2 separate regions of the Homo sapiens genome follow, and region 2 is linked to region 1. Evidence: fine-mapped expression QTL. Tissue or cell type: whole blood. Region 1 holds a variant in brackets; the other region holds the start of a gene. All regions are shown on one strand. Distances are between the middles of the regions.

Region 1 (2,760 bases):
GATGGCTGGGTCAAATGGTATTTCTAGGTCTAGATCCTTGAGGAATCGCCACACTGTCTTCCACAATGGTTGAACTAGTTTACAGTCCCACCAACAGTGTAAAAGTATTCCTATTTCTCCACATCCTCTCCAGCACCTGTTGTTTCCTGACTTTTTAATGATCGCCATTCTAGCTGGTGTGAGATGGTATCTCATTGTGGTTTTGATTTGCATTTCTCTGATGGCCAGTGATGATGAGCATTTTTTCATGTATCTGTTGGCTGCATAAATGTCTTCTTTTGAGAAGTGTCTGTTCATATCCTTCACCCATGTTTCGATGGGGTTGTTTTTTTCTTGTAAGTTTGTTTGAGTTCTTTGTAGATTCTGGATATTAGCCCTTCGTCAGATGAGTAGATTGCAAAAATTTTCTCCCATTCTGTAGGTTGCCTGTTCACTCTGATGGTAGTTTCTTTTGCTGTGCAGAGGCTCTTTAGTTTAATTAGATCCCATTTGTCAATTTTGGCTTTTGTTGCCATTGCTTTTGGTGTTTTAGACATGAAGTCCTTGCCCATGCCTATGTCCTGAATGGTATTGTCTAGGTTTTCTTCTAGGGTTTTTATGGTTTTAGGTCTAACATTTAAGTCTTTCATCCATCTTGAATTAATTTTTGTATAAGGTGTAAGGAAGGGATCCAGTTTCAGCTTTCTACATATGGCTAGCCAGTTTTCCCAGTACCATTTATTAAATAGGGAATCCTTTCCCCATTTCTTGTTTTTGTCAGGTTTGTCAAAGATCAGATGGTTGTAGATGTGTGGTATTATTTCTGAGGGCTCTGTTCTGTTCCATTGGTCTATATCTCTGTTTCAGTATCAGTACCATGCTGTTTTGGTTACTGTAGCCTTGTAGTGTAGTTTGAAGTCAGGTGGCATGATGCCTCCAGCTTTGTTCTTTTGGCTTAGGATTGTCTTGGCAATGTGGGTTCTTTTTTGGTTCCATATGAACTTTAAAGTAGTTTGTTTTCCAATTCTTTGGGGAAAGTCACTGGTAGCTTGATGGGGATGGCATTGAATCTATAAATTACCTTGGGCAGCACGGCCATTTTTACGATATTGATTCTTTCTATCCATGAGCTTGGAATGTTCTTCCATTTGTTTGTGTCCTCTTTTATTTTGTTGAGCAGTGGTTTGTAGTTCTCCTTGAAGAGGTCCTTCACATACCTTGTAAGTTGGATTCCTACGTATTTTTTTCTCTTTGAAGCAATTGTGAATGGGAGTTCACTCATGATTCGGCTCTCTGTTTGTCTGTTATTGGTGTATAAGAATGCTTGTGATTTCTGCACATTGATTTTGTATCCTGAGACTTTGCTGAAGTTGCTTATCAGCTTAAGGAGATTTTGGGCTGAGACGATGGGGTTTTCTAAATATACAATCATGTCATCTGCAAACAGGGACAATTTGACTTCCTCTTTTCCTAATTGAATACCCTTTTTTTTTTTTTTTTTTTTTAGTATTTATTGATCATTCTTGGGTGTTTCTCAGAGAGGGGGATGTGGCAGGGTCATAGGATAATAGTGGAGAGAAGGACAGCAGATAAACACATGAACAAAGGTCTCTGGTTTTCCTAGGCAGAGGTCCCTGC[A/G]GCCTTCCACAGTGTTTGTGTCCCTGGGTACTTGAGATTAGGGAGTGGTGATGACTCTTAACGAGCATGCTGCCTTCAAGCGTCTGTTTAACAAAGCACATCTTGCACCGCCCTTAATCCATTTAACCCTGAGTTGACACAGCACATGTTTCAGAGTGCACGGGGTTGGGGGTAAGGTTATAGATTAACAGCATCCCATGCAGAAGAATTTTTCTTAGTACAGAACAAAATGGAGTCTCCTATGTCTACTTCTTTCTACACAGACACAGTAACAATCTGATCTCTCTTTCTTTTCCCCAAATTTCCCCATTTTCTTTTCCACAAAACCGCCATCGTCATCATGGCCCGTTCTCGATGGTCGCTGTCTCTTCGGAGCTGTTGGGTACACCTCCCAGATGGGGCGGCCAGGCAGAGGCGCTCCTCGCCTCCCAGATGGGGCGGCCAGGCAGAGGCACTCCTCACCTCCCAGACGGGGTGGCCAGGCAGAGGCGCTCCTCACCTCCCAAACGAAGGGCACCAGGCAGAGGCACTCCTCACCTCCCAGACGGGGCGGCCGGGAAGAGGCGCTCCCCACTTCCCAGACGGGGTGGCCGGGCAGAGGCGCTCCCCGCTTCCCAGATGGGGTGGCGGCCGGGCAGAGGCGCTCCTCACATCCCAGACGGGGCAGCCGGGCAGAGGCGCTCCTCACTTCCCAGATGCGGCAGCCAGGCAGAGGTGCTCCTCACCTCCCAGACGGGGCGGCCGAGCAGAGGCGCTCCTCACCTCCCAGACGGGGCGGCCGGGCAGAGGCGCTCCTCACATCCCAGACGGGGTGGCCGGGCAGAGGCGCTCCTCACCTCCCAGACGGGGTGGCCGGGCAGAGGCACTCCCCGCTTCCCAGATGGGGTGGCGGCCGGGCAGAGGCGCTCCTCACATCCCAGACAGGGCAGCCAGGCAGAGGCGCTCCTCACTTCCCAGATGCGGCAGCCGGGCAGAGGCGCTCCTCACCTCCCAGACGGGGTGGCCGGGCAGAGGCGCTCCCCACTTCCCAGAAGGGGTGGCAGCTGGGCAGAGGCGCTCCTCACCTCCTAGACGGGGCGGCCGGGCAGAGGCGCTCCTCACATCCCAGACGGGGGGGGGGGGCAGCTGGGCAGAGGCACTCCT
Region 2 (2,500 bases), 130 kb before region 1:
GCAACAAATACAGCTCAAGGAAAAGCTGGTTTTGGAAAGTCACACTCCACACCCAGGAAATCTCTTCAAATCTGCATACAAAAATGGAAAGCAAAGCCATCACTTAGTACAATGTCCTTTTAAAAGATGTTATGTCACTACTTTGCACTGGAGTGAACAATATTTTTATAATATGTTACTAATTAAAACAAGAATATAAATACATAAGGAGTACAGGAAGTGAATTAGGGAAGGGTATAAGACAAAACTAAAACCTTTTCTATTACAGAATGTTCTCAATGGTTTTAAATGCATACTTTTTCTTTTTTTTTTTTTTTTTGAGACGGAGTCTCGCTCTGTCGCCCAGGCTGGAGTGCAATGGCGCAATCTCGGCTCACTGCAAGCTCCGCCTCCTCGGTTAACGCCATTCTCCTACCTCAGCCTCCCGAGAAGCTGGGACTACAGGCGCGTGTCACCACACCCGGCTAATTTTTTGTATTTTTTGTAGAGACGGGGTTTCACCGTGTTAGCCAGGATGGTCTCGATCCTCTGACCTCCTGATCCGCCCGTCTTGGCCTCCCAAAGTACTGGGAATACAGGCGTGAGCCACCGCGCCCGGCCTGGTTTTACTTTTAACAAGAGGAGTGGGCCGCACGCGGTGGCTCACGCCTGTAATCCCAACACTTTGGGAGGCCGAGGCGGGCGGATCACGAGGTCAGGAGTTCCAGACCAGCCAGGCCAATATGGTGAAACCCCGTCTCTACAAAAAAACACAAAAATTGGCCAGGCGTGGTGGCGCGCCTGTAGTCCCAGCTACTTGGGAGCTGAGGCAGGAAAATCACTGGAACCCGGGAGGCAGAAGTTGCAGTGAGCCCAGATTGCGCCACTGCACTCCAGCCTGGACTACAAGAGCGAAACTCCGTCTCAAAAAAAAAAACAAAAACAAAAACAAAAAAAAAACCTAACAACAGCAACAACAACAAAAAAAATAGGAACCATTCGGCCTGTTTCCACATCTGTACAACAAGCTAAATCATCCCTACCCTGCCTACCTCGTTGAACAGGCATTTTTTGTGAGAGCAACGAACCTGAAATGTTAACACCAACACTGACGTCTACAATTACCGTTACCGTTTTTAATAACCACTCAGGTACCTCCGACTGTTCTGCGCCTGCTCCACGTCACTAAACTCGCTACCGCCTGCTCCCCTCCAGAGACCGGGGGCCTTCCAGCAGTTTTCGGACCCCCGAGCACAGAGACCGCCAAGCCAAAGGCGAGTAGCAATCCCTCGGTTCGGAAACGGCGAAAGGAAACCGCAAGGAGGCCACCACGTCGGGTGGGAGCTACGAAGTTGCCCGTTCCCGGTTACTTCCGGGCTTGCGAGCGACGACTGCTCTCAAAGGCCAAACTTAATGGATGGACGAGCAGCGCGCTACTGCAGCTTTCTTCCGCCTTAGGAAGGTGGCGGCCAGGGATGAGGAGGCCCCTAAGCAAGTGCGGAATGGAGCCGGGGGGCGGAGATGCCAGCCTCACTTTGCATGGTCTCCAGAACCGCTCCCACGGCAAGATAAAGCTGCGAAAGAGAAAGTCTACCTTGTACTTCAACACCCAGGAGAAGAGCGCCAGGCGCCGCGGGGGTGAGTGAGGGGACACTGTCTGGAGAGCTCCTACCCCCATCTAAAAGGAACCCCCTCCATTTCATTACCAGCCAGTTGCCCGTTGAGCTCTGTGTTGCCAGATCTTGAGTTTTGAAATGCTGGGAAATGCTGGAAACACAGATTTTAATATAAATTCTGATTTTTAAATGTTGGCAACTAAATTCAATTTTTTAAAAAATACTCTGTATTTGGCCGACAGGCTGTCCATTTGTGGTCAAGAGCAGGACTTTGGAGACATCACACAGACCCGGGTTTGAATCCTGATAAGTAATTTACAACTTTATTTGGACAAGGCAGTTTAATTTCTGGGCCTCAATTTGCTCGTCTGTAAAATGGGGCTAATAATACCTATCCCATAATATTGTTTGGAGGATTAAGTGAGATGCATGTGAAGAAATTAACACAGTGCCTGGCATATATAATAGTAATCATCAATATATATGTACAGAGGACCATTTTATATTGCACATATACAAAGGGCTGCTTCCCAAATTAGTAATTTGTTAGCTGGTTTCTTTCATTAGATACACACATAGTATGACCTAATTAATTAGCCTAAGGCCTTAGTTAACCCACTCTTTTTTTTTTGTATTTATTTTAATATTATCTTTACACAATAAGTTGCAAGAAAAGTTGGTTAAACTAAAAGAGTGGCAGTCACCCAGTGATGACGCTGTGGTGCTTGTATAACCAACCAAGTTGGCTTTAAGAATGGTGTGGAGGGACCAGAGGTCACTACTGTGCCTTACAAGGAGCCAACCAGAGCAGCAGATTTTAAGTTTTGCAAGTGGAACTGCCTGACTTTTGTGCCACTATTACCTGTTTTGTTCTGTTTTTCAGATCTTCTTGGAGAAAATATTTA

Evidence for each region. PIP is the estimated chance that this variant, and not a neighbour inherited with it, causes the effect.
Region 2: it holds the start of PIGB, and the variant in region 1 is fine-mapped to the expression of PIGB in whole blood (TOPMed, PIP above 0.99).

The regions. Positions count from the first base shown.
Region 1 is chr15:55,443,570-55,446,329 of GRCh38, forward strand. All of the region lies in intron 6 of DNAAF4 (dynein axonemal assembly factor 4), which reads right to left. All of the region lies in intron 5 of DNAAF4-CCPG1 (DNAAF4-CCPG1 readthrough (NMD candidate)), which reads right to left. Among named protein-coding and RNA genes, the nearest start is that of PIERCE2, 36 kb to the left of the region's middle. The variant A/G (reference allele first, on the strand shown) is at 1,618.
Region 2 is chr15:55,317,797-55,320,296 of GRCh38, forward strand. PIGB (phosphatidylinositol glycan anchor biosynthesis class B) reads left to right here and starts at 1,426. Exons shown (of 12, transcript NM_004855.5): 1 at 1,426-1,617; 2 at 2,479-2,500. The coding sequence starts at 1,455. It overlaps PIGBOS1 (PIGB opposite strand 1), which reads right to left and starts at 1,327. Exons shown (of 2, transcript NM_001308421.2): 1 at 1,068-1,327; 2 at 1-71. It also overlaps a transcript of RAB27A not described here. RefSeq lists enhancers at 1,186-1,255, 1,306-1,395, 1,456-1,535, 1,606-1,685.